Regions from separate parts of the Homo sapiens genome. Here region 2 is linked to region 1. Evidence: fine-mapped expression QTL. A gene starts in region 1. The other region holds a variant in brackets. All regions are shown on one strand. Distances are from middle to middle. Region 1 holds the start of B4GALT3 (beta-1,4-galactosyltransferase 3). Region 2 holds the start of LOC112543491 (linc-UFC1).

Region 1 (12,486 bases):
TCACCAAGTAGGGTTCTCACTGGCATAAGTAAGTTTTTCTGAAAATGAGACTGAGCTTAGGGGCCACCTCTGTGATTGGGTAAGTAAGCAGGAGCTAGAGTGAAAGAGGGGCAGAGAGAGCTAGCTCATCGAAGAGAAGTGATGGGCATCTCAGCCCTCAATCCCAGGCAAGGCCTGACCCTTTTCTGGAATGGTCTCTGCCTTACCACACCTCCAAGACCCAGATTGTAGGTAGGCTTTACCTAATAGGAGTCCAACAAGTTCTTGCTAGGGATGGGATTGTGGGGGGGCACATATCTCCCTGTAAGAGCCACAGTGAGCTCTGTTTCCCATCTGCCTACTTATTGCCCTCGTGGGCCTGAGCTGGGGTGTAGATATATAAGGAGGAACAGAAACAGTAATAACAGGAAGTAAGGAGGCACTGAAACAATTCAAGTATCTGGTCCTGGAGATGAAAAGAGGAAATGGAAAAAGAAAAGGCATTGAATGACAAGGGATTAGAACCCTGTCCCTAGAGAAGTTCAAGAAGAGTTTGGACAACCATTTTATGAGATGGCAAGTGTTGTGCATGAGTATGTGTTTGAGGTGGGGGAGGAAGTTGAAGCAATAAGTTGGGCCAATTTCCTAAAGTCCCTTCTGCCCCTGAGATTCTCTGCTTCTGTGGTTCAAACAGAGGAAATCTGGACATTTGTCCAGCCACTATTTTTGTAATGGAGGTGGGACAGCCAGGGTTCCTGGAGTGTGCTGTGGAATCGGCATTTACACTTCTCTTCCATCTCTAGTCTCATTTCTGTAATCTTCATACAGTATTACAGTATTTTGTTTTCTAAAATACCAGATTGGCAGTAAGTGACAAAACTAGCATCTCATTGGTCAGGGCTTGTGGGGGAGGAAGGGAGAAGAAAGTGGATTTCAATGTATTAACATTTTATTGGCTGAGAGGATGTTTCTGAACCAATTGAGTACCTTCCCCATTGACTGTTGCTGGGGCCAAGCCAAAATCATTGGCACCACGAGAAACCAGATGACAGCTGGAGGAAACCACGAGTGCTAAAAATGCTCAGAAAGAGGGGGGTCAGGGAAGGCGGGGGAGCAACAACACTGAACAACTTCCCCAGGCAGGATCTTACATGGGGACAGACCCAGGGTACTTAAGTAGCATTAGGAAGGAAAGGGAGGGGAGGAAGTAGATTAAGTATCCCTCACAGTCTTGGCACAACAAACAGGCACCATACACCCACACCAACAGTGACACATTGACATAACACACATCCAACTTCACAGAGACACACTAGCACATTCTCTCTTTTTTTTAAAATTTATTTTATTATTATTATACTTTAAGTTTTAGGGTACATGTGCACAATGTGCAGGTTAGTTACATATGTATACATGTGCCATGCTGGTGTGCTGCACCCATTAACTCATCATTTAGCATTAGGTATATCTCCTAATGCTATCCCTCCCCCCTCCCCCCCTGCCTTTCTTTTTCTTCTTTTTTTTCTTAAGACAGATTCTCATTCTGTCACCCAGGCTAGAGTGCAATGGCGTGATCTCGGCTCACTGCAACCTCCACCTCCCAGGTTCAAGTGATTCTCCTGCCTCAGCCTGCCAAGTAGCTGGGATTACAGGTATGCACCACCATGCCCAGCTAATTTTTTGTATTTTTAGTATAGAGACGGGGTTTTCCATGTTGCCCAGGCTGGTCTTGAACTCCCGGGCTCAAGTGATCTGCCTGCCTCGGCCTCCCAAAGTGCTGGGATTACAGGTGTGAGCCAGGGTGCCTGGCCAACACATTCTGTTGATAATATAGATGCAAATAAGTAGTAGGGAGCGGAAAATGTAAGAATTTTCACCTGAAAATGGATCTGAAGAGTAAAAGATATTAATTGACCTAATCGTGCATTGAGAATTGACTGTTTATCCCATTTATTTGTTCAATAAATAAGCCAATGGGTTGTAAACATTGTAAACATTCCACAGCATGTGGAAAGGACATGGATTTTTGGAGTCAAATTGAATCTAAGCCTTGCTACTTACTTACCTGTAATGATGCAACCTTAATTACTTGATCTCTGTAAACCTCAGTTTCCTTACCTACAAAACGTTTGTACTATTACCTGCCTTATAGAGAGGTCCAGACTTAAGAATATGATGATGTAAATGTTTGGCACTGTGTCTGGCTTTTAGTAAGTGGTCAATAAAGGCCAGTTCTCCTTTCCTTATATCTCTTCCTTTGTCTGCTCCCTGACTTCTAACCCCTGCATTCACGTGAGAAAACAGTTATATCAAGGAACTGTCTAGGTCAGATCTAAGGGCCATTTTGTAAATTTGTGCAAAAAGTTCTGGCTTACATTGAAGGGATGATAAAAGGAAAGACATGGTCCTAATCCTCAGAGTTCACAATCTGGTGGCTGAGACAGTCAAGTAGGACAAAAATTTCAGACTTCTGTGATAGGTGCCATGATCAAGGAGGGGCACCTAGCACAGAATATGAGGCCACAGAAGTGTTTCTGGAGGAGGTGCCTGTCTCTCCTTCTAGAAGTGAGCAGTAAGGCTGGGCACAGTGACCCATACCTGTAGTCCCAGCACTTTGGGAGGCCAAGGTGGGAGGATCACTTGAGGCCAGAAGTTCAAGACCAGCCTGGGGGACATGATGAAACCTGGTCTCTACAAAAAATACAAAAAAAGGCAGGGTGCAGTGGCTCATGCCTGTAATCCCAGCACTTTGGGAGGCCAAGGCAGGTGGATCATGAGGTCAGAGTTCAAGATCAGCCTGGTTTGAGAATCTGGTCTCTGGTTCGAGACCAGACCAGGAGTTCGAGACCAGCCTAGTAGATAGAAGATGAAACCCCATAGCTACTAAAAATACAAAATTTAGCCAGCACGGTGGTGGGCACCTGTAATCCCAGCTACTTGGGAGGCTGAGGCAGAAGAATTGCTTGAACCTGGGAGACAAAGGTGGCAGTGAGCCAAGATCATGCCACTGCACTCTAGCCTGGGCATCAGAGCAAGACTCCATCTCAAAAAAAAAAAAAAAAAAAAAAAAAAAAAAAAAATTAGCCAGGTGTGCTTGTGCACGCCTGTAGTCCTAGCTACTCAGGGAATGGGGTGGGGGCTGAGGTGGGAGGATCACTTAAACTCAGGAGGTGGAGGCTGCAGTGAGCTGTGATTGTGCCACTGCACTCCAGCCTGGGTGACAGAATGAGAACTTGTTTCCAAAAAAAAAAAAGAAAGCTGTAAGACTGCAGGGAACCCATGGATGGTGGGAGGGTGTCAGGGGGGCATGATTTCTGTTTGCTAGGTCAGGTTCAGGTTCTTCTATGTTATACAAAACCAAAGTGAGGTAAAGAGGTAAAGAGAACAGACCAGAAAACCAGAAACTGGAGGATAATATGGTAAGAGAAAGAGCTGAGTGGGAGAGAGATCTGGAACAACAGTGTAGGCTGAGGGGAGTTGGAAGGGATAGTTTTGGGAAGAAATAACATCCAAGTAGAAAATGTTGAATGGAAGAGGGAGAGGAATATTTTTTTTTTTTGCAACAGAGTCTCCCTCTGTTTTCCAGGCTGGAGTGCAGTGGCGCCATCTCCACCTCCCAGGTTTAAGCAATTCTCTTGTCTCAGCCTCCCGAGTAGCTGGAATTACAAGCGTGTGCTGCCACACCCGGCTAATTTTTGTATTTTTAGTAGAGACAGGGTTTCACCATGTTGGTCAGGCTGGTCTCGAACTCCTGACCTCAGGTGATCCACCTGCCTCGGCCTCCCAAAGCGCTGGGATTACAGGCATGAGTCTCTGCGCTCGGCCGAGACAGAGGATTTTAAAGACATTGGGCTGTCCATTAAAATGTGCTCCTAATCCACTGCCCCTTTCCCCTGTCTCTGATATTTCCTTGAGAAATTAAGTAGAGATTTAAATTAGTTTTTGATTACTAAACTGGGTTTCTTCTATTGTGTTATGTGCCATGACTGGGCCAGTGTGGGCCCCAGGATTTATTCAGAATATTGAAAGACAGGATGTTGTGGTGGAAACCAGCATGTTAAAATTTAAGTTTTCAGAAACATAACAGTTCTAGGTGATGACTAAGTCCAGGGTGTGGCCAGGGTGAGACAGAGCAGAAGGGAAGGTTCTTGAAAACAGGGAGCTTACAAATTAATGTAAAGGAATGGCCAGAAGATAGTAGATAGGCCTTTGTGGTGGCTCACAGGAGGCTCACTTGAGGCCAGGAATTCAAGACCAGCCTGGGCAACAGAGTGAGACTCCGTCTCCACAAAAAACTAAATTAGCTAGGTACACACCTGTAGTCCTAGCTACTTGAGAGGTTGAGGCAGGAGGATCACCTTAACCCAGGAGTTCAAGGCTGCAGTGGGCTATAATCATGCCATTGCACTCCAGCCTGGGTGACAGAGTGAGTCTCTGACTCTAAAAAAGAAGATGGTTAGATACAGAAGGAGACAGAAAGTGAAGGCTGGGCGCGGTGGCTCAAGCCTGTAATCCCACCACTTTGGGAGGCCGAGGTGGGCAGATCACCTGAGGTTAGCAGTTTGAGACCACCCTGACCAACATGGAGAAACCCCGTCTCTACTAAAAATACAAAATTAGCCGGGCGTGGTAGCACATGCCTGTAATCCCAGCTACTTGGGAGGCTGAGGCAGGAGAGTTACTTGAACCCAGGAGGCGGAGGTTGCGGTGAGCTGCAGATCATGCTGTTGCACTCCAGCCTGGGCAACAAGAGAGAAACTCCATCCCAAAAAAAAAAAAGAAAGTGAGGGTCAGTCCTGTAAGACAGAACGCGATGGAGGAACAGAGGCTCAAAGGAAGGGTCCTCTGGGAGAACCACATTTTCTCTCTTTCTCTCTTTCTTTCTTCTTTGAGACAGAATCTGGCTCTATCACTCAGGCTGGAGTAGTGCAGTGGTGCAATCAGCTCACTGCAGCCTTGAACTCCTGGGTTCAAGTGATCCTCCCACCTCAGCCCTGTGAGTAGCTGGAACTACAGCTGTGAGCCACCATGCCCAGCTAATTTTTGTATTTTTCTTGGAAGGGAATTTTGCCATATTGCCCAGGCTGATCTTAAACTCCTGAACTCAACTGATCCACCTAACTGGGCCTCCCAAAGTGTTGGGATTACAGGCGTGAGCCATGATGCCAGGCCAAGAACCACATTTCAATGATCTGTTTAAGTCTGTCTTTTCCACTACACAGTGATATTCTTAAAAAATCAAGGCTTTTTGAGTTATACTATATCAGAAGCTAAAAATAATAATAAAAAATAATAAAAGTAAAACAAACAAAAAATCAAGTTTGGGAGGCCATAGCGGGAGGATCACTTCAACCCAGGAGTTTGAGACCAGCCTGGGCAACATAGTGAGACTGTCTCTTCAAAAAAAAAAAATTATAATAAAAAAAATCAAGGCTTTGTCTTGGCTTCTATTTGTGCTCAAAAGTTTTCCATAGTTCTAATGATCACAAAACCCCTTAAGGCTAGAGTTCATTTTACAGATGAAATCCAGAGTGTATTGCTCAGTACACAGCCAATGGGTTTCAAAGTTGGTATTGTATTTAAACCCAGCATTATCTCATTTTGAGCCTTCACAGGCACCTCAAACTCATTATGTCTAAAGTTTGTCATCTCTACCCCTTCCCCAAAATGTGCTTCTTCCTAAGTTTTGTTTCTCATTAAATGGCACCACCCAGTGGTCCAAATTAGAAATCTGGGTGTCCTCTTGGAGTCCAATTCCCTAACTTGGCACATCCAGTCAATCTTCAAGTCCTGTTTGCCTCCTGAAAGTTCCCAAAGTTACTTTCTTCCCTCCAGTCCCACGGGTATTACCTATTCTGCATGAGCTTCATCTTATTCCTGGATTTCTGCAGTAACTTTCTAAATAGTCTCCCTGCCTCTGGTCTTGACTACTTCAATTAGTGCTCCACATTTCCTAAAGTTCTGATCATAGCACTCTCTATTTACAGCACTTTAATGCCTTCTTCTTGCCCTCTGGATAAGACCCAAACTCTTTTAGCATGGTTTGTGGAGTCCTTCATTATTTGGCATTTGCTTACCTCTCCAGTCTCATATCTCAACATTCCCTTCACTCTACTGTCCAGCCTTGCGGGCCCAGTTTTAATTTCCCAAACTCCCTAATTTCTTCCTCATTTCCAGAATTTTGCACTTATGGTTTCCTCTGCTTGGAACACTATTCATCTGTTAAAAGTTAATTTTCTAGCTGGGTGTGGTGGCGCATGCCTGTAATCCCAGCTACTCGGGAGGCTGAGGCAGGAGAATTGGCTGAACCCAGGAGGCGGAGGTTGCGGTGAGCCAAGATGGTGCCATTGCACTCCAGCCTGGGCAACAAGAGCAAAACTCTGTCTCAAAAAAAAAAAAAAAAGGTAATTTTCAGAAGAAGGTAAAATTATGACCCTTAAACTGTTGAAGAAAAAATTATTCTGACACTTGTTAAAACAGTAAGGAAGACTATTGCAATAGTCAATGAGCAGAATCAGAGTCAGTGGATGGAAGGAAAATTACATTAAGGCTAGGAGGATTCTTGCTAAACTGACCTAACAGGATCTTTCCTGAAGGCAGGTGAGGGTGATCAGATAGATCAGCTATCAAGGGTGGAGAAGCGGGCAGGGAATTATCCCTAAACTGACTTGGCAGGATTCTTGCTATAACTGGCTAGGCAGGCCCAAGACAGCGCATAAGGACAAGACCTAGCCAAAAAGAGGCCTTAGAGGAGCCTGTTGAAAGTCTGGTTAAGGAGATGGTCTTTGTCAATACCAACATAAAAATGAACACATAGGCCGGGTGCAGTGGCTCATGCCTATAATCCCAGCACTTTGGGAGGCTAAGGTAGGTGGATCATGAGGTCAGGAGTTCAAGACCAGCCTGGCCAAGATGGTGAAATCCCGTCTCCACTAAAATACAAAAATTAGCCGGGTTTGGTGGCGGGAGCCTGTAATCCCAACTACTCGGTAGGCTGAGGCAGGAGAATCGCTTGAATCCGGGAGGCGGAGGTTGCAGTGAGCTCAGATCGCACCACTGCACTCTAGCTTGGGTGACAAAGCAAGACTCCGACTCAAAAAAAAAAAAATTCTCCTTGAAGACTGGGTATTTGGGAAAAAAAAAAAGGAAAGGAAAGGAAAAAAAAGAAGGAAGGGAAGGGAAGGGACGAAGGGAGGGAGGGAGGAAGAAGGGAAGGAAGGAAGGAAGGAAGGAAGGAAGGAAGGAAGGAAGGAAGGAAGGAAGGAAAAAGAGAAATAAAATTAAGAGGCCTGATGCTGTGGCTGACGCCTGTAATCCCAGCGCTTTGGGAAGCCAAGGTGGGCAGATAGTTTGAGCCCAGGAGTTGGAGACCAACCTGGACAACATGGTAAAACTCTGTGTCTTCAAAAAATACAATTAGCTGGATGTGCTGTTGTCCCAGCTACTCAGCTACTCACGGGTCTGAGGTGGGAGGATCCCTTGAGCCTAGGAGGTTGAGGCTGCAGTGAGCTGTGATCTTGCCACTGCACTCCAGCCTGGGTGACAGAGTGAGACCCTGTCACAAATTTTTAAATTAAAAAAAAAAAAGTAAACAAAAAGGCCGGGCGTGGTGGCTCACACCTGTAATCCCAGCACTTTGGGAGGCCGAGGCGGGTGGATCACCTGAGGTCGGGAGTTCCAGACCAGCCTGACCAACACAGAGAAACCCTGTCTCTACTAAACATACAAAATTAGCCGGGTGTGGTGGCGCATGCCTGTAATCCCAGCTACTGAGGAAGGCTGAGGCAGAGGTCGCGGTGAGCCGAGATAGCGCCATTGCACTCCAGCCTGGGCAACAGGAGGGAGACTCCCTCTCAAAAAAAAAAAAAAAAAGTAAAGAAAAAAGAAATTAAGAAAAGAATGAACACGTGTTTATTTTACCTAACTCATGAAGAAACTAGCAGATGTTATAATTAATACAAGAGAAAATCTAGAGAACGGACATATTTATGGATCAGGAAAACAGAAATGAATATGAAAATGGACGCCAAAACTGCTTTTTTTCCCCACAGTGTGGGGAACAGCAGGTTAATTGAACCTCTACCAGACAGGATAGAATTTGCATACAGATCAGTTACCTACATGAATTGTAAAATAACTCCCATGAAAACAGAATCTTTAAAGCAGAAGGATATGCTATAGACAAGTCCTTCAGGTTTCCCATTAGCCATCACTTCTGGGAAGCCTTTCTAGAATCTCCACGTATGAATGAGTTGCCACTTCTAGGCCAGCATATTTATCACGTTATATTGTTTACATCCCTCCCTCCATACAAGATACACAAGACCATGGGCTTTTTGGGGCAGATTCTGTGAGTTATTCAAGTCTCTGATTGCTTCTTCAGCGTGAATATCTGCTTCTAAGGAACACAATATGCTAGGCGGTAGTGTTTGTCGTAAGGTAAACATATTGCATGTTAACGGAGCATCCATTTTACTCTAATATCTGGGGAAACATCATTTGACTTTAAAGAAGACGCTGTCTTTCCCTCCACCTTCAATGTTTCATTGTTTTATTAACTAATCGCTTTTTATTTCCAGGCCTGCGGGATACAACGGGAATACAAAAATGCGCTAGAGCGGTCCGCAACGCTGTAGCCTGCGTAAGGAACAATTGATACTAAGTGGCACTAGGCTGCAGGGGGTGCCACTGACACACTGGGAGAGGGCTCAGCCAACCACAAGGTGATAACGAGGTCAGCGGAGCACCAGAAACCGGCTCACTAGCCTCCTGATCAGTCTCGGCCCAGAGGAAAATGAAGGGCTTGAGCTTCTGCTTTTACAAATCTGAGGGGCAGGAAATGAAATCCCACTAGCAGTCTGCGTAGTGGAGTTGAACCCTAGCACCCGCTCCCCAGGGGGTCGCCTACAACGCGTTCCAGGTGGGCAGGCTCAGGCGCTGCTCCCTCACAAGCCCCCGGCCACGCGGTGTCTGGGACCGGGTGCCTAGTCAGCCCGGGTGGCTCCGCCCCGAGGCCCCGCCCCATGACGCGAGACCCCGCCCCCGCAGCGCCCGCTTCCAAGATGGCGGCAGCGATGCCTGCCCGGCTGTTGGGGTGGCGGTGACGACAGGCAGCAAAAGACCAGGTATGTGCGCTGGGAATGCGTCGACACGGAGGCCTGGGATAAAGGTTTGGGCATTCGAGAGAGTGAGAAGTTTTGGGTAACGCCTGGAGACGAGCCTGAGCAGGGACGGGGTCCTAGGTGGAAGTATGGACGGGGGCCGGGCGGGCTCACGTTGCTAGTAGGTAGGGCAAAAGCAAGAGACTGGGATAGGATGGGCGTGCTCCGAAAGAGCTGGGTTTTAACCCCCTCCACAGCGCGGACCACGCCCCTCTAGGTGAGCCCTTCCAGCCACCCCTGACTGTCTCTGCCCCTGCTCTCCCTCTCCCTTTCTCTTCAGCAGTAACCCTCCTCCCCACCCCCGCTAGAAGAGGGGAAAGGTAGAAAAGGTAGAGGACGCCACCCCCACCCTACTCTCCGCCGAGCTCCGGGGCTGTTCGCTTACAGCCCCCAGGTGGTCACGGTCCCTGCACCTGAGGAGTTGGCACCCAGGCACATGAAGAATAGAAGGAGCCTGTTTCCTACTTCGCCCTGGGTACTCCTTAGGCCACTCCACGGTCCTGTCATGACTCTGTCGCCACTTCAACTGGTTCTTGGTCTGGGGGAAAACAATGTTTCCATTAGCTGTCCTGTCCCCACTCCCCAATCTGTCCTGTTGGGGTGGGGGTACGGGGGTGGTTAAGTATGAACCTGACACTTATCATTCCAGGGTAGCACGGGAGATAGGCGAGGGACCTACCATCTCCTGCTCCTCCTCTTCCTTTCCAACCACTTTCCTTCACTTCGCCTGCTGGGAAACCAGCTTCACCCTGATCCTGATCTCTGGCGGTGCAGGTAGCTAGTTATCCTTTACCACTTCTGTTCCAGCTGGTCCCAGATTCGCTGCTGGAGTGCTGGATGGAGCCTTTCTCTGCCCTCTGTGACATTTCCAATTTTAGATAATGCCTCACATCTCTGTCCCCCCGGGACCCCCTGGAGCCCCCATGATCCCTAAGAAGACAGCTTGAACCTAGGTGAGTCTATCTCTTCCCTTCTAAAATTGGAAGAGGGGGTTCTCTAGAGACTTTCTGAAATGAACATGAGATTTGAATGATGTAAACATTTTTGGGGGTGAGGACTGACAGTAGATGGTGGGAGTGGTTTGGGGGGAGGTAGAGGAGAGCGAAACTTGGGCTGAAGTGACAGGTGGTAGGGTTACTGGTGGTTACATTCTGTTTCCTTGCGTGACTGTGCACCTGTGTGCTCCCTTCTGTGACTTTGTTTTCTGCTTTTTCCTCTTTACCCCTGGCATCACCTTCAACCCTACCTACTGACCTCTCTGCTGGCTTGCTCTCTTCCTGCCTACCCCCAGAATTCCCCTCTCCCTCCCTAGATCTCACCCCCAGGATGTTGCGGAGGCTGCTGGAGCGGCCTTGCACGCTGGCCCTGCTTGTGGGCTCCCAGCTGGCTGTCATGATGTACCTGTCACTGGGGGGCTTCCGAAGTCTCAGTGCCCTATTTGGCCGAGATCAGGGACCGACATTTGACTATTCTCACCCTCGTGATGTCTACAGTAACCTCAGTCACCTGCCTGGGGCCCCAGGGGGTCCTCCAGCTCCTCAAGGTCTGCCCTACTGTCCAGAACGATCTCCTCTCTTAGGTAAGTGCAGGAGGAAGGAGGTGGTGAAAGGAAGGACAAGGTGCGGAGACAGGGAGGCTTGGGGATAGGGAGGCATGGAGTGGCAGAAGTGGAACTTAGAAGAGGATAGGTAGGCTGAGGCTGCAGGTAGGCTGAGGTTGAGATAGAGGGCTGAGGTTGAGATAGAGTAGACTCTGAATTGGGAGTTTAGATTAGACTATTGGGTTTCCACTTTCTACTGCTTGTCCCTTTATGGGCTCTTCCTGCCCCAGGCTAGGAATTGTTTTCCTTGTAGATGAGCCCTGGTTTAATTAGTTGCAAGTCTCTCCAGCCTTCAACTATAGCTTCCAACCCTGTAAGACAGGAGAAAGTTAGGCAACCCTAAAATAAGAAGAGAAGGCTAGGTAAGGATCCTGCACCTTCCAGCCTTTGTAGAGCTGTCCCAGTGATAGGTAATCCAAGGCATGCGAGATTTCTGAGTGAGCCCTGAGAACTAAGCCCCAGAACCAGACTGCCAGTGTCAGAGGTATTCCCAAACCCTAGTTTGATTCTTTTCTCTTTGCCCCTCTGATCCCTCTACTTGCCATTCCTTCCCAACAGTGGGTCCTGTGTCGGTGTCCTTTAGCCCAGTGCCATCACTGGCAGAGATTGTGGAGCGGAATCCCCGGGTAGAACCAGGGGGCCGGTACCGCCCTGCAGGTTGTGAGCCCCGCTCCCGAACAGCCATCATTGTGCCTCATCGTGCCCGGGAGCACCACCTGCGCCTGCTGCTCTACCACCTGCACCCCTTCTTGCAGCGCCAGCAGCTTGCTTATGGCATCTATGTCATCCACCAGGTACCCCCAATCTCCACCTCATTTTGACTGACTTTCTTCTAAGGAAGCCTCAAGCACATGCCACTTCACTTTCATCTAAATGGGTCCCTAGAATAATTTTAAGAAGGCCAGACTGTTAGAGTGTGGAGAAGCACCCGGCACTGCTCTTCCAACTTTGTTAGTCCCATACTTTTCCTTAATCTGCTTAGGTTATTCCCACTGTCCTACACTCTCCTGTGATTTTTTCTTTATTGAATGGCTTGTGCAGAGTTGGAATTGGACACAATAGGGCTAAAATTCTAGTTCCGTCACTTGTTACATGTATGACTCTGAGCAAGATACTTAAACATCTAACATGAGGAAAGAGCATAAGATAACTAATATACCATCTGTTCCACACCACACCATTGTTGGTTGCCAATTGTCAGGATTAAATGTTAGACAGCAGCATCTTAAGTATCAGGTCCATACCAATACACAAGCAAGATTTGTCAAATGACTAAGTGGAAAAATGAAAAAGATAGTCTTTCTTTTTCATTCTCCTTGCCCTCCACCCCACTTTGATTTCCCTCTTTTCACTTTTATTCTTTTTTTTCTTTTTTTTTTTTTTTGAGATCTCACTCTGTCCCCCAGGCTGGAGTGCAGTGGCACGATCTCGGCTGACTGCAAGCTCCACCTCCCGGGTTTTACGCCATTCTCCTGCCTCAGCCTCCTGAGTAGCTGGGACTACAGGCGTGTACCACCATGCCCAGCTAATTTTTTGTATTTTTAGTAGAGATGGGGTTTTACCGTGTTAGCCAGGGTGGTCTCAATCTCCTGACCTTGTGATCTGCCTGCCTTGGCCTCCCAAAGTACTGGGATTACAGGCGTAAGCCACCGCGCCCGGCCTTCACTTTTATTCTTTAGCCCCCTTTTCTCCGTGCCACCTACAGACATAGTCTGGTTCCCCTCCATTATCTTCCAGGCTGGAAAT
Region 2 (16,840 bases), 40 kb after region 1:
TTAGCCGGGCGTGGTGGCGGGCGCCTGTAGTCCCAGCTACTTGGGAGGCTGAGGCAGGAGAATGGCGTGAACCCGGGAGGCGGAGCTTGCAGTGAGCCGAGATCTCGCCACTGCACTCCGGGCTGGGCGACAGAGAGAGACTCCATCTCTGAAAAAAAAAAAAAAAAGTGTGTAGTCCCAGCTACTCGGAGGCTGAGGCAGGAGAATGACGTGAACCCCGGGGGGCGGAGCCTGCAGTGAGCTGAGATCGCGCCACTGCACTCCAGCCTGGGCGACAGAGCGAGACTCCGTCTCAAAAAAAAAAAATAATAAGGAAGAGTATGTAGGCCTGAGCCTCACTGTTTTTCAGAGGAAGAACTCATTCATGAGCAAATGTTTATGGAGTTCCTAATATGTTCCAGGCATTGGAAATACAGTAGTGCATAGGCAGGTGGGCTCCCTGTCCTCATGGAAATTATCCTTAAATAGTTATAAAAAGGAATTCAGCCAGGCGTGGTGGCTCACGCCTGTGATCCTAGCACTTTGGGAGACCGAGGTGGGTGGATTGCCTGAGCTCAGGAGTTTGAGATCAGCCTGGGCAACATGGTGAAACCCCATCTCTACTAAAATACAAAAAATTAGCAGGGTGTGGTGGTGTGTGCCTGTAGTCCCGGCTACTTGGAGGCTGAGGCAGGTGAATTGCTTGAACCCAGGAGGCAGAGGTTTTAGTGAGGTGAGATCGCACTACTGCACTCCAGCCTCAGCAACAGAGCAACATTCTATCTCAAAAAAAAAAAAAAAAGAATAGAAAAGGATTGATTAAATAGCTCAATTCTAGGAAATGTAGGCAATGCAATAGGACAGTTGGGTGCATCGGAGAACCCCTGAAGGTAGTTGAAAGCCCCACTGTCTGTCATCATGGGAAAAGGCAGCTCCTGGGACAGAAAGAGAAGTGAATACTGGATTAGAGAAATAAATCTTGGATTAGGGAAAAAAGAGGAAGCTTTTCCTCTGTTCTCTATTTTTTATTTTTTCGTGAGACAGAGTCTCGCTCTGTTGCCCAGGCTGGAGTGCAGTGGCATGATCTCGGCTCACTGCAACCTCTGCCTCCCAGGTTCACGCCATTCTCCTGTCTCAGCCTCCTGAGTAGCTGAGACTACAGGCACCTGCCACCACGCCCAGCTAATTTTTTGTATTTTTAGTAGAGACGGGGTTTCACCGTGTTAGCCAGGATGGTCTCGATCTCCTGAGCTTGTGATCCACCCGCCTCGGCCTCCCAAAGTGCTGGGATTACAGGTGTGAGCCACTGTACCCGGCTCCTCTGTTCTTTAAGGCATTGGTCTGGACTCTAATATGCTGGAAAATAACTCAGAACGGTGAAAGAAATGATAGCTCTGCTATAGGGAGGAAGCCACGTTATAGAAGATTAGTGTAGATGGACAGTAAGTTTTGGAAGTTATTCTCTTTTGTTATTACCTTTAATTATCCTGGAGACTTCAACAAAGAATTATGGTAAATTGTAGCTTGGTCTCTTATGCTATGAGAAACTGGGTTCACACTTAGAATCACTTGGTAAAAAGAATTATAATATTAAGCTAACATTTATACGGTGCTTATTATGTGTTTGGCACTGTCCTAAACATTTTACAAACATCAGCTCCTTTATTTCTGGTTATAACCCTGGGGTGGGTTCTCTCATTATCCTCATTTACACGTGAAGAAATTGAAGTACAAGTTGAATGAAAGAAAGCCCTATCACACAGCAATTAAATGGTAGAGACCTGGAATTCAATCCAAGCACAGCCTGGCTCTAGAAGTCACACACTTAACCAATTGATATACCTTTCTACCATCGCTAGGCCAATATAAAATTAGCAGCAGGGATCTGAGCGATTAGGAGCAGTAGCAGGGGGCTATTGATGGCCCTAAATGGCAGACAGTGATCAATAATGAACCTGTTTCTGAAAACACAAGGAGAGCCTGGTGGTTCTCCATTAAGCACAGTAGAACTGCAGGGACTCTAAACCCCCCCTCCCTTGAATGGGCTGAGGTATGTGCAGCACCTTCTGTGGTATTGGTATCACCCTTAGGGATTCTGGAACTACAGACTTTGCGTTTAACCATTAATGGGACTTCATCTCTACCTCCTCTTTGGGTAGGAGAAACTAATATGGTGACAATTACCATAAAATAAGAAATCCCAGGGGGAGGGGGGAGGGATAGCATTGGGAGATATACCTAATGCTAGATGATGAGTTAGTGGGTGCAGCACATCAGCATGGCACATGTATACATATGTAACTAACCTGCATATTGTGCACATGTACCCTAAAACTTAAAGTATAATAATAATAATAATAATAAAAAGAAATCCCTATTCTGGAGATATACAAAGTACTGTCTGAGTAACTATGCCTGAGAGAATCAGATATGGCTGATGGCCTTTGAACTGGAACTCTTAGGATGAATACATTAAACATGCAGGCAAGGAGAGAGCAGGGAAAGCACAAATATGATAAAATGCGAACAAACTTTTACATACATTTGATTTTAAAATATTTACTTCTGAATAGATAATACATGCACTTGCCCCAAATTTAAAAAGGACAAAAGAATATACGGTGAAACCTATGTTTCAGAGTTTTGCTCTTGTCACCCAGGATGGAGTGCAGTGGTGCAATCTCAGCTCACTGAAACCTCTGCCTCCTGGGCTCAAGTGATCCTTTCACCTCAGCCTCCCGAGTAGCTGGGACTACAGCAGGCACATGCCACCATGCTCAGCTAATTTTTGTATATTTTTGTAGAGACGGAGTTTCATGCCACGTTGCCCAGGCTGGTCTCGAACTCCTGAGCTCAAGCAATCTGCCCACCTCAGCCTCCCAAAGTGCTGAGATTACAGGCATGAGCCACTGCACCTGGCCTACTATCTTTTCAGATGTTTAGTCTCCATTTGTATTTCCTGTTCTGTACAATATTTCATTATTATTCATTTATTTTAGAGATAGAATCTCCTTATGTTGCCCAGGCTGGTCTCGAACTCCTTGGCTCAAAGGGACCCAGCCTCTCAAGCAGCTACATAGAGGTGCATGCTACACCCAGCTCTGTTCTGTAAAGTCTTACCTCCTTTCCCCCTTTTAAATTATTATTCATTTTTCTTTTCTTTTCTTTTTTTTTTTTTTTTGAGATGGAGTCTTGCACTGTTGCCCAGGCTGGAGTGCAGTGGCGCGATCTCGGCTCACTGCAAGCTCCGCCTCCTGGGTTCACACCATTCTCCTGCCTCAGCCTCACGAGTAGCTGGGACTATAGGCGCCCGCCACCACGACTGGGTAATTTTTTGTACTTTTAGTAGAGACGGGGTTTCACCGCGTTAGCCAGAATAGTCTCGATCTCCTGACCTTGTGATCCGCCCACCTCGGCCTCCCAAAGTGCTGGGATTACAGGCGTGAGTCGCTGCGCCCGGCCTATTATTCATTTTTCTTACTGATTTGCTTTTTTTTGAGATGGAGTTTCACTCTTGTTGCCCAGGCTGGAGTGCAATGGCGCGATCTCAGCTCACCGCAACCTCTGCCTCCTGGGTTCAAGCGATTCTCCTGCCTCAGCCTACTGAGTAGCTGGGATTACAGGCATGCACCACCACGCCCAGTTAATTTTGTATTTTTAGCAGTGACAGGGTTTCTCCATGTTGGTCAGGCTGGTCTCGAACTCCCGACCTCAGGTGATCCACCCGCCTTGGCCTCCAAAGTGCTGGGATTTGGGAGTGCTACAGGCATGAGCCACCATGCCCCGTCTTTTTTTTCTTTTTCTTTTTTTTGAGATGGAGTCTCGCTCTGTTGCCCAGGCTGGAGTACAGTGGCACAATCTCAGCTCACTGCAACCTCCGCCTCCCAGGTTCAAGCGATTCTCCTGCCTCAGCCTCCTGAGTAGCTGGGACTACAGGCGCCTGCCACCACGCCTAGCTAATTTTTGTATTTTCAGTAGAGACAGGGTTTCACTATGTTGGCCAGGATGGTCTCCATCTCCTGACCTCGTGATCCACCTGCCTGGGCCTCCCAAAGTGCTGGGATTACAGGTGTGAGCCACTGCACCCAGCCTTTTTTTTTTTTTTTTTTTTTTTTTTTTTTTTTTTTTTTTTAGACAGATTCTTGCTCTGTCGCCCAGGCTGGAGTGCAGTGGTGCAATCTCAGCTCACTGCAACCTCCACCTCCCGGGTTCAAGCGATTCTCCTGCCTCAGCCTCCCGAGTAGTTGGGATTACAGGTGCCCACACCACGTCCGGCTACTTTTTGTATTTTTAATGGAGACAGGTTTCTCCGTGTTGGCCAGGCTGGTTTTGAACTCCTGACTTCAGGTGATCCTCTCACCTCAGCCTCCCAAAGTACTGGGATTACAGGCATGAGCCACTGTGCCTGACCTGATTTGTATTTTTTTTTAAATATTAACATTAAAAGGATTAGCCATTTGTGATGAGTTGTAAATATTTTTCCCAGTTTGTTATTTGTCTTTTCTTTTGTTCATAATATTTTAAACAATATGAAAAATTTTCACATATGAGGTTATCAGTATTTTGCTTGTAGCTTCTCGTGGTGGTGTCACCATAACAGCAGTCTCGATTATTTTTTAAAAATTTTCCTCAGGCCCAGCGCGGTGGCTTATGCCTGTAATCCCAGCACATTGGGAGGCCAAGGCAGACAGATCACTTGAAGTCTGGAGTTCGAGACCAGCCTGGCCAACATGGTAAAACCCCGTCTCTACTGAAAATACAAAAATTAGCCGGGTGTGGTGGCAGGTGCCAGTAGTCCCGGCTACTCGGGAGGCTGAGGCAGGAGAATCGTTTGAATCTGGGAGGCAGAGGTTGCAGTGAGCTGAGATTGTGCCACTGTACTCCAGCGTGGGTGACAGAGCGAGACTCAGTCTAGAAAAAAAAAAATTTCCATTAGTGTTTTTACCCCCAAAAATTACAATGGCTTTATTATTTGTTTTAGCTTATTTGAACAATAGAGAAAAATAAAATTAACCCAAAAATACCACCCCAAGAGATTTTAAAAAGCCACTATCATTTTAGGTATATATTCTTCCAGACATCTCTATGTACACATTTCCAATCTTCTAAATCCTTTCAGTGTAATTCACTGTTCTAGGTTCTTGAGATGGATGCAGAACTCACAAATTCTCAGCTTTTCTTTCATCCTAAAATTTTTATTTATTTATTAACTTACTTATTTTAAAAGAGACAGGGGTCTCCCTATGTGGCCCAGGCTGGTCTCAAACTCCTGGCCTCAGGCAATCCTTCTTCCTTGGCCTTCCAAAGCACTGAGATTACAAGTGTAAGCCACCACATCCAGGCTCTTTTTTCTTATGTGCTCTTAAGACTATGTATTTTCCTCTAAGCACATTTTTTTCTTTTCTTTTTTTTCTTTTTTCTTTTTTTTTTTTGAGACAGAGTCTCACTCTGTCGCCCAAGCTGGAGTGCAGTGGCATGACCTTCGCTCACTGCAACCTCTGCCTCCTGGGTTCAAGCGATTCTCCTGCCCCAGCCTCCCGAGCAGCTGGGATTACAGGCACACGCCACCATACCCGGCTAATTTTTGTATTTTTAGTAGAGACAGGGTTTCACCATGTTGGTCAGGCTGGTCTCAAACTCCTTACCTTGTGATCTGCCCACCTTGGCCTCCCAAAGTGCTGGGATTAACAGGCGTGAGCCACCGCGCCCGGCCCTTTTTTCTTTCTTTCTTTCTTTTTTTTTAAGACAGAATCTCGCTCTGTCACCCAGGCTGGAGTGCAGTGGCGCAATCTCGGCTCACTGAAACTTCCACCTCCCAGGTTCAAGTGACTATCTCGCCTCAGCCTCCTGAGTAGCTGGGACTACAGGTGCCCACCACCACGCCCGGCTAAGTTTTTGTATTTTTAGTAGAGATGGGGTTTCACCATTTGGTCAGGCTAGTCTCCAACTCCTGACCTCAAGCAATCCACCTGCCTCAGTCTCCCAAAGTGCTGGGATTAAAGGTTTGAGCCATGGTGCCCGGAATGCTTTGTGACATTTTAAATTATCACTCAGGTCAAAATATTTTCTAACTCCAATTGTGATTTATTTTGTGGGTCATTTAAAAATGTATTCAGCACACTACAGCCTTAAACTCCTGGAATCAAGGGATCCTCTGGCCTCCAAGTAGCTGGGACTGCAGGCATGTGTCATTGTGCCCGGCTGTATTTAACTTGTAAACATAGGGACTTCCCAGTTACCTTTTTGTTACTGATTCTAGCCTCACTGTAATGTAGGCAAGAAACATACTTTGCATCATTTGAAGCCTTTGAAATTTGTTGAAACTTGCTTTATAGAACAATCTGGTCAGTTTCTTAAATGTTCCAAATGTGCTTGAACATGTGCTTTGTAATTTGAAGTCGTTGGGTATAGTGGACTCTATACGCTTGTTGAATCAAATTTACTGCTCGTGTTATTTAAATTTTCTATATCCTTGCTGATTTTTTCTTATTCTTTCTCTTTTTTTTTTTTTTTTTTTTTAGAGAAAGAGTTGGTCTCATTTTGTCTCTCAGGTTGAAGTACAGTGGTGCCATCATAGCTCACTGCAGCCTCAACCTCCTGGGGTCATGTAATCGTCCCACCTCAGCCTCCTGGGTAGCTGGGACTATAGGCATGCACAACCATGCTCAGCATATTTTTTTTTTTTTTTTGAGACGGAGTCTTGCTCTTGTCACCCATGCTAGAGAGCAGTGGCGCGATCTTGGCTCACTGCAACCTCCGCCTCCCGGGTTTAAGCTATTCTCCTGCCTCAGCCTCCTGAGTAGCTGGGATTACAGGTGCCCGCCACCACACCCAGCTAATTTTTGTACTTTTAGTAGAGACGGGGTTTCGCCATGTTGGCCAGGCTGGTCTCGAATTCCTGAACTCAGGCCCGCCCCGGCCTCCCAAAGTGTTGGGAATTACAGGCGTGACCCACCGCGCCCGCCCCTAATTTTTTTTTTTTT[TG/G]TAGAAATGAGGGTCTCCCTATGCTGCCCAGGCTGGTCTTGAACTCCGGCCTCATGCAATCCTCCCATCTCAGCCTCCCAAAGTGCTGGGATTACAGGCATCAGCTACTGCACCTGGCCCTGACTTTTTCTATCAGTTCTGAAAGAAGTATACTCTATTAATTGAGAGAGGTGTGCTAAATCTCCTACGATGATTGTGAACTTGTCTATTTTTCCTTGTAGCTCGGTGCTGTATATTATTTGAGGTTTTGTTAAGTGCATACAAATTTAGAAATGTTTTCCGGCGTTGGTTGAAAATCACCCCCGGTTTTGGCCGTGGCCGCGGGTGAAATTCGGCGCGCAAGAGCCTCCGGGGGCCTCAGCTCACCGCGTGCTGCCGCCATGTGCGACGGTGAAACCCAGGCCCCGACAGGGGCCGCGGCCTCCCCCCGGGTGTGGCTGCTCGCGTGGTCTGACCCCTGACTCCTGACCCCGGCTGCAGACCCCTAACCCTATTTTTCTCTCCGCAGGACACTGGTCCTCCTACGCCTGAGACCGACGTTGCCAGGACCGCAGGGTCAGGGGGACTTGGCTGTCCCCCGTCTTTCAAATAAAGCTGTTTGTCTAAAATAAATAAATAAATAAATAAATAAATAAATAAATAAATAAATTTATTTTTTAACTTCCTGGTGAATTAAACTTATTGGTATAAAATGTCCTTATTTCTAGTAATGCTTTTTGCCTTCAAGTCAACTGTGTCTGATTTTAACATAAGCTTCTTTTGGTTTATGTTGCATAGCTTATCTTTTCCTATAATTTTACTTTCAACCTTTTGATAACCTTATTATTGTTTATTTATTTATTTATTTAATTTATTTATTTTTGAGACAGAGTCTTGCTCTGTTGCCCAGGCTGGAGTGCAGTTGTGCGATCTCGGCTCACTGCAAGCTCTGCCTCCTGGGTTCATGCCATTCTCCTGCCTCAGCCTCCTGAGTAGCTGGGACTACAGGCGCCCGCCACCACGCCCCGCTAATTTTTGTGTTTTTAGTAGAGATGGGGTTTCACCTTGTTAGCCAGGATGGTCTCGATCACCTGACCTCGTGATCTGCCCGCCTCGGCCTCCCAAAGTGCTGGGGTTACAGGCGTTAGCCACTGCGCCCGGCCTATTGTTATTTATTTATTTAAAAAAAAATTTTTTTTTGAGACGGAGTCTCGCTCTATCACCCAGGCTGTAGTGCGGTGGCACAATCTCAGCTCACTGCAACCTCTGCCTCCCGGGTTCAAATGATTCTCCTGCCTCAGCCTCCTGAGTAGCTAGGATTACAGGCACGGGCCACCACACCCGGCTAATTTTTGTATTTTTAGTAGAGACGGGGTTTCACCATGTTGGTCAGGCTGGTCTCGAACTCCTGACCTCAAGAGATCCACCTGCCTTGGCCTCCCAAAGTGCTGCAATTATAGGCATGAACCACCACGCCCAGCCTGTTATGTTATTTGAAAAAGAATGGTCTGGAATATAAGAGCATTTTTACTTAATTGAACAACCACCCAAAGAAAAATTGGTTAATTCTCTAATTAACTGGTGGGATTGGTGAGACAGGGTTGTTTTATGTTACGGTCTTTGGAATAACCAATGACTTGGAAAAAGTCATCCCCATGGGGGCAGCAAAGAGTCATTGATAAAGAGCCTGCTGAATTTCTGAAACCTGGTGAAACTTGTTATATATAATACAATAATAAATATTAGGTAACATTTATCCAGCACTAGGCCCTGTGCAACACTTTCTATACATCATTTAATATAATCATTAAAACAATGATCTGTAAGGTGGATGTTATATTTCTTTCACAGATAAGAAAACAAGTTTAGAGAAGTTAAGGAACTTGCCTGTCATATTAGTGAGGGTCAGAGCTGGGGAATGAAGAAAAGGGAACAGGTTGAGGCGACTTGAACAGCAGATCACTAGGATTCAGCAACTGATTGTGGTCCCTACTCCTTTTTTCTTTTTCTTTTTTTTTTTTGAGGCAGCAGGGTCTGGCTCTGTCACCCAGGTTGGAGTGCAGTGGTGCGATCTTGGCTCACTGCAACCTCGGCTTTCCAGGCTCAAGTGATCCTTCCACCTCAGCCTTCTGAGTAGCTGGAACTATAAGCACATGCCACCATGCCTAATTTTTGTATTTTTTTCTGTAGAGACAGGGTTTGGCCATGTTACCCAGGCTGGTCTTGAACTCCTGGACTCAAGCAATCCACCCGCCTCAGCCTCTCAAAGTCCTGGGACTGCAGGTATGAGCCACCATGTGTGGCCGAGGTCCCTACTCTTTTATTCGGGAGCCATAGAAGCCAGAACTGCAATAAATTCTAGTTCTGGACTTAGAGCTAGGTTCCAAGCTGAACTGAAATTAGGAGGAGCCAGTAGTATAATGCCTGGATGAAAATGAGTAACTGGGGCAGCTTAGAGTTAATAGGAAACCAAGAATAGAGCAGATCATCAGGTCAGCAAGTCCCTGCAGAGTAAAGCAGAAGAGTAAAGCCCTGGTAGGGACACAGGGATCCGAGTGGCCCTGGAAGAGTCAAGAGGATACTTGTGACAAGGGGCTAGTGCTAGCAAGATAGAGACTTCTTAAGGGAATATCTGGTTTGAAAAGATTAATCTGGCAGACCTGGGAAGGAACATGGACTAGGACAAGCAGCCTTAATAGAGTATTCAGATCAAGAAAGAGAACAGATCTGCTTTACTCTAAACTGGTACTACCACTGACTTGTAAAAAAATATTTAGTAGGGACATGTGGCTATGATGTGTTGACCCAGAGAGAAAAAACAGAACCAATACATGGAAGTTACAAAGAGATTTATCTAAGGATAGTAAAAAGGCCTTTCTAATTACTGAGAATTACAGGGAGTTGAAAACTACAGTTAAGGACACAGTGGAAATGTGAGCCTGTGGATAGCTGAAGGGTTCCAGGTTACAGATTCCAGTGAAGGAAGAGGTAACTGTGGGAGTAGTGTTTTGATAAGTAGAAAAGGATGGGCATCAGGATAGAGCTGAAGGGGCCAGTCTTTGAAAGCTGGAGGGATGTTTTCTCAGCTGAGGAAGAGACAGGAACTAATGTAAAGGAAGAAACATAACAAGCAGAGGACTTCCGCAAGAGAATTCTACACAGGGTTCTCAATCTTCTCAGAGGAAGTTCCCCCAAGTTTTTAGTTGAATTAAGGAGAGGGTGGTTCATAAGGCAAGAGATGAAGTTTTTGTTTTAACTGTACAGATGATGTATAGTTTAAGCTAAGGAGGAACAGCAGTCTAGCTATAGCTAACAAAAAACTCTAAACTGTTTGAAATATTTTTTTCTCAGTGATGGACATGAGGGTGCCCATCTCTACACAGGAGGTCCCTTTGGCTTAGCTCAGGAAATCTGCACAGCTCTCTTTGTTGGCGTTACGATCTTAGGACTTCATGTTGAAAGAGTGAACTTCCAGGGCTCCCCAAGCAGAAAATATCCCTCCAAATAAACTGACTAGTTTAGGAACAGCTGGCCAGGCAACTGTCCCAATGTTTGGAATTTGGAAAATTTGGTCATTGAAGTCTGGCCCCAGGGAAAAGAACTGAGTTCTGTGAGTCCTGCAGGGGAAGACAGATTACTTTGGAAGGCCTAATGAAGGCAAATCTCAGCCCTTCCTTCACCTTTCCATTCTTTTTTTTTGAGACAGAGTTCAATTCTGTTGCCCAGGCTGGAGTACAGTGGCGTGATCTTGGCTTACTGCAACTTCCACCTCTCAGGTTCAAGCAATTCTCCTGCCTCAGACTCCCGAGTAGCTGGGATTACAAGTGCATGCCACCACACCCAGCTAATTTGTTTATTTTTTAGTAGAGATGGCGTTTCAACATGTTGGCCAGGCTGGTCTCGAACTCCTGACCTCAAGTGATCCTCCTGCCTCAGCCTCCCAAAGTGCTGGGATTACAGGCATGAGCCACCGTGCCTGGCTAAGCTTTCCATTCTCAGTGAAGAAAGTGATCTGTTCTCTTCCCCATTGGTTGCAATAAGCAGACTGGACATCATACTATGACTAGAAAAGGCAATCCTCAGCTTTCTCTAATCCTCTGAATGGAATTGGGTTAGGTTTGGAGAGGAGAGGTGGGTTCATGGAAAGGAATTACCATCATGGTGCCAAGACTACTGAGTGTCAAACCACTTCAGAATATGGATACGGAGGGAGAATATTATTCTCCTTTAAGAAGTAGTGCCTGTGTCTGTCTTTTTTGCGGGCTTATGTGGATTACATCTGCATTCCACACATCACAGCTACCTCTGTCCTGATGGCTATTCCTCTAGGAAAAGCTAAGGAGCAATCTACGAAGACAATGAATACATAAGGGAGATTGTTTACAAAAGAAAAGTGTTCCAGTGGGTATAGAGGAAAAAATGGTCAGAGGTGAGGTAGAAATTTTTTACTTTCCCCAATTAATGAACACCTTTTCCCTTCAACCTTCTACAGGCTGTTTATTCTTGCTCCTGTAGGAAGGCGTGGCAAGGTATCAGCTTTCTCTTTGCTACCCACTGCTACTTTTAGACCACTGTGCTTCCATCCTCTTGCAAAAATTCTTCTCCCTTTGAAGCTTATGCCATCTGGCTTTACTGCCCTTTAACACCTTTTTTTTTTCTTTTTCTTTTTGTAGTGCAGTGGCAATAATCATAGCTCACTGCAGCCTCAAACTCCTGGGCTCAAGTGATCCTCCAAACCCAGCCTTCAGCACCTATTAACCTCTTTTTGTGCCAACTCTTACTATCATCCTGGGAGGTTTTACAAAAACCCATGAAAAATACAGTTAGTTCCTGACCTCCAACTCCAACGAATACTCCCACTTTCAATTCCTTAATTTCACCATTTCTAGAAAAACAGGTTTTTGTTGATGGCAGCTTCAGGGCCATAGTAAGGACTGGGAGAGGGTAGCATTCTTCTTCTTTTTTTTTGAAACAGGGTCTCGCTATGTCACTCAGGTTGGAGTGCAATGGTGCCATCAGGACTCACTGCAACCTCAAACTCCTCAGTCTCAGGTGATCCTCCCACCTCAGCCTCCCAAATAGCTGGGACTACAGGCAAGTGCACACCCACCTAATTAAAAAAAAATTTTGTAGAAATGGGGTCTCTCACTATGTTGCCCAGGCTGATCTTGAACTCCTGGCCAAAGTATTGGGATTACAGGTGTGAGCCACCACACCCAGCCAGGGTATCATTATTAAGTGTAGTAAGATTGATGGTGCCAGCACTGGCTGGTGTTGACTTGAAGACTCACTGAAAGACTGGGACTGGCAGCCATGATGCATAAGGGCAGAATAGCCTGGGGGTTGTACTGCCCAGTGATACTTGGGGAAAGGTTCAAGATCTGGATTTGACTCTTGTGCCAAGCTTCCAAGAAACCTAGGTTCAGAGGTAAGAGCACCTTTCCTATCAGCTGCCTCTGTGGGGACATCTGACACTTTCAACATCCACCCCCTTGAAATACTCTTCCCTTTGATTCTGTGACAATTATCTCCCAGGTTTTCTTCTTCTTCACTCGCTGTTCCTTTTCAAAGATTCTCCAAGAGCTCTTTTTCTACTTGTGCCTTAAATGTTGGAATTTCCGAGAGCACTCTTCTTAGCCCTCTGCTCTTTTCTGGGGAGCTTATCCAAATCTATGGCTTCAACTACCACCGAAATGTTGATGTTTCAGAATTTCTGGCCTATATATCACAGGGCTTTCTAAAAAGTAGTTTTCTGGCCAGGTACCATGGCTCACGCCTGTAATCCCAGCACTTTAGGAGGCCGAGGAGAGTGGATCACGAGGTCAAGAGTTTGAGACCAGCCTGGCCAACATAACGAAACCCCGTCTCTACTAAAAATACAAAAAATTAGCCAGGCATGGTGGCGTGCACCTGTAGTCCCAGCTACTCAAGAGGCTGAGGCAGGAGAATTGCTTGAACCTGGGAATCAGAGGTTGCAATGAGCTGAGATGTGCCACTGCACTCCAGCCTGGGTGACAGAGCGAGACTGTCTCAAAAAAGAAAAAAAAAAAGTAGCTTTCTGTAAAATAATATGTGCATAATAAAATAATTTCAAGCAATAAAGATAGATGTAAAATGAAAAGTATAAGTCTTATCCCTCCTAGGCCCACTCTTCATAATTTTTTAATGCATGTGTAAATGTGTCATATTTATTCTGTGCTTGCTTTTTTTCTCCACTTATATTTTTCTCTTAAGTTTTAGATCTGTGTATTAAACATGCCACTAGGACATATCTATCTAGCTATCTCACAGGTACCTAAAACTTCTTCACCTTCTTTGGAATTCTCCCTCCTGCAACACCCTACCACTAGTCTCCTTTTTACATCAACACCATGAAAAAACTGTCTTTATACGTTGTGCCTTCTCAATTCAATCTGGTTTCTATCCACCATAACTACAAAACAGCTTTCTCCAAATTTCCTAAATGACCTCCTTGTTGCAGTATCTTTTTTGGGGGGACAGAGTCTCACTGGAGTGCAATTGTGCAATTTCGGCTCACTGTACCTCCGCCTCCTGGGTTCAAGCGATTCTCCCACCTCAGCCTCCCAAGTAGCTGGGATTACAGGTGCCCGACACCATGTCTGGCTAATTTGTGTATTTTTAGTAGAGATGGGAGTTCCACCATGTTGTCCAGGCTGGTCTCGAACTCCTGACCTCAGGTGATCGGCCCACCTCGGTCCCCAAAGTGCTGGGATTACAGGTGTGAGCTACCACACCTGGCCTTTTTATTTATTTGTTTTATTTACAAAAAAACCAAAGTCTTGTTCTGTTGCCGAGAGTGCAGTGGTGCAATCTTGACTCACTGCAACCTCCGCCTCCTGGGTTCAAGTGATTATCATGTTTCAGCCTCTGGAGTACCTGCGATCACAGGTGCGCACCACCATGCCCAGCTAATTTTTGTATTTTTTGTAAAGATGGGGTCTTGCCATGTTGACCACACTGGTCTCCAGCTCCTGGTCTTAAGTGATTCACCTGCCTAGGCTTCCCAAAGTGCTGGGATTACAGGTGTGAGCCACTGTGCCTGGCCCTTGTTGCAATATCTGATAGATACATTTTATTTACTTTATTTTATTTTTTTGGAGACAGAGTCTCACTCTGTCACCCAGGCTGGAGTGCAGTGGCACGACCTCAGCTCACTGCAACCTCTGCCTCCTGGGTTCAAGCGATTCTTGTGCCTCAGCCTCCCCAGTAGCTGGGACTACAGGCGCGCACTGCCATGCCTGGCTGATTTTTGTATTTTTAGTAGAGACGGGGTTTCACCATGTTGACCAGGCTGGTCTCCAGCTCCTGACATCAGGTGATCTGCCCGCCATGGCCTCCCAAAGTGCTGGGATTACAGGAGTGAGCCACAGCACCCGGCCTATTTATTTCATTTTTTTTGAGACAGGGTCTTGCTCTGGTGCCCAGGCTGAAATGCAGTGGCGCGATCTCGGCTCACTGCAACCTCTGCCTCCTGGGTTCAAGCAATTCTCATGCTTCAGCCTCCCAAGTAGCTGGGATTACCGGCATGTGCAACCACACCCATCTAATTTTTTTTGTATTTTTAGAAGAGACAGGGTTTCACCATGTTGGTCAGGCTGGTCTCGAACTCCTGGCCTCAAGTGATCCACCCGCCTCGGCCTCCCAAAGCTAGGATTACAGGTGTGAGTCACCATGCCCGGCCCTGATGTATATATTTTAGTTAGCATTTTACTATATCTCTGTTACACTAAACGCTTTCACCAGTTTCCTTGATAGTTCTCTATGGTTTTCTTCTTTCCTTTCGGTTTGCCCCTTCTCAGTGTTCTTTTCGGCTTCCCTCATCCTATCCCGCAAATGCAGGTATCCTCTCCAGCCCACTTCATGGCTTCAACAGCTATCTATATGCACACGCACACACACCTCAAACCTTTCTTTTGAGTTCCCAACCCACATTAGCTAATATCCCAGGGGCACCTAAAACTCATTATCTCCCCCCTAAACGAGAAAGAAACTGGTATCATTATTCCCCAGTTGTCCAAGTCACAACATTCGTACCTCTTAAACCAATCTGTATCTCCCCATCCGCACTCTCCCTTCCACAGGCAGACCATCATCATCCTTGCCTGGAAAAGAGCCTCACAACTGCTCTCCTTGATTCTCCTCAATTCATTCATCCTTCACACTGCACGCAGCGATCTAAAATGCAAATGAAATTGTTCACACCTCTGCTGAGATTCTTCAAAGACTTTTCATTGCCTTAAGGATAAAAATCAATTAATTTACAAGGCTTCGCATAATCTGGTCTTCCCCTATCTATTACCACTTTCTTAAGCCACACCAGAACGTACCCGCACCATCCTCCCCACCCCCAATTCCCAACAGCCCTACACGGATCAGCTAGGCGACACTTCCTACAGGAAACCGGCGTTCAAAAGGTAAATGCTGAACAAATGAATTCCGAGACGGGATCTGGGCACCACTTTCGGCTCCGGATCCGGGTTTACGGAACGTCCGGGTTATCAGGAAGCTCAGAGGAAAGGTGAAATCCAGATCTTGACCCTTCACTCAAGTTCGCCAGACAAACCGATCCCCGTGGTATTCCGCCCTTATGAGTCATGGCTGCCAATCCCAGCCTTCCAGTGGGTCTTGAAGTCGCCACCAGCCAGCTGTGGCGCCACCAATGTTTCCCATTCAAGAATGCTATCCTCTTCGATCCCTTATTACCGCCCTAAGCAGCCGTCAAGACAAACCGGCGTTGCCAGCTTGCCCCAAAGCAAGATGGCTGCCAATCTCTATCTCTCCTCCCGAAGTGAAGCTATCCACTCCCCGATTAATGCCGCTGCCAGGCTGCCCTCACTTACTATGGCTACTCCGGCTCATGTCTCACTATGGCCTCGAAGCCGCCACTAACCGGCCGGGTTCCGGGAGGCGCCGTTCAGGATGCAGCCACCCCCGCCCGCCTGTCCCCTCCCCCACGGCCGCGGCGGCGGCGGCGGCGGCGGCTGCTGGAGCCCGGATGCGGCGCCGTGAGGCAGGCCCGGGAGAGCGGCGCGGATGGATCCAACATGGCGGCGCCGAGCCTGAGCCGAGAGTGAGGCGGAGGGGCGGCCGGAGTGGGGAGAGGGAGTCGAGCGGGACGGGGCGGGGCCGGGCGGGGCCGCAAAGGGCTTGGGGAAGGAAAGTGGAGGGGGAGGCGGTGGCGACGTCCAGCCTGAGAACCTCAAGAGAGGGAGGTGACGGGACGCTGAGAGGTGGGGGAGGGGAGCTGCCGAGGGGGGCGTGCAGGGGAGATGGCAACTGCGGGAGAGGGCAGGGGTCGAGACGGAGGAGTGAGGGCATGGGGAGGGGCGTAAACAAGGGCTGAGACTGGGCCCAGCCAGGGGTATTAGAGAGGCCGAGGTGGGGAGTGGGGCTGCGATCCGCTCGTATTGAAGGGGGTAGGAGCAGGAGGGAGAGGCTGAGGGTGTGAAGGGGAAGGGGGCTGTGGCATGTGGTTGGAGGGAGGACTGGACTCTGATGAGGGGTGTTGCGAGGAGGTGGGTAAAGGTCAGAATTGGAGTTAAGACGTTTCTGGGGGGCTTCGAAAGTGTTAAATTGGAGGTGGGAGGGGGAAGGGCCTAGGGGAGAATTTGGGTGGAAAAGGAGAGAACGGAGGCTTGGGGAATGGAGAGAGTGTCGGTGGGAGGAGGTAATGGAGAAAGTGAGAGACTGGGAGGAAGAAAGTTTGGGAGGAAGGGGAGTGGAATGGGAGATAGGACAGTGGAGCTGCACGGGTGATAGAGGTTCGGGGGTTTCCCTTTCCCCGGTGGAGAGGAGGAGAGAACAGAGTTAAGCAGCATCAGTTGCAGCCAATTCTAATTGCCAGGCCCTTAGCTTTTAAGAGGGTGGGAAGGGCAGA

The links. PIP is the estimated chance that this variant, and not a neighbour inherited with it, causes the effect.
Region 2: its variant is fine-mapped to the expression of B4GALT3 in whole blood (INTERVAL, PIP 0.98).

Annotation. Positions count from the first base shown.
Region 1 is chr1:161,174,041-161,186,526 of GRCh38, reverse strand. B4GALT3 (beta-1,4-galactosyltransferase 3) reads left to right here and starts at 9,020. Exons shown (of 8, transcript NM_003779.4): 1 at 9,020-9,104; 2 at 9,948-10,093; 3 at 10,453-10,719; 4 at 11,299-11,534; 5 at 12,478-12,486. The coding sequence starts at 10,467. It overlaps ADAMTS4 (ADAM metallopeptidase with thrombospondin type 1 motif 4), which reads left to right. Exons shown (of 9, transcript NM_005099.6): 9 at 1-2,225. It also overlaps a transcript of PPOX not described here. RefSeq lists enhancers at 759-808, 1,579-1,778, 4,103-4,162, 7,193-7,694, 8,833-9,332 and silencers at 8,931-9,100, 9,311-9,360, 10,200-10,249.
Region 2 is chr1:161,131,744-161,148,583 of GRCh38, reverse strand. LOC112543491 (linc-UFC1) reads right to left here and starts at 13,434. Exons shown (of 1, transcript NR_156734.1): 1 at 10,642-13,434. It overlaps LOC124900457 (small nucleolar RNA ACA64), which reads left to right and starts at 7,248; the gene lies at 7,248-7,376. DEDD (death effector domain containing) reads left to right here and starts at 15,917. Exons shown (of 6, transcript NM_032998.3): 1 at 15,917-16,033. RefSeq lists enhancers at 15,453-15,762, 16,224-16,840 and silencers at 15,783-16,132, 16,183-16,402. The variant TG/G (reference allele first, on the strand shown) is at 6,963.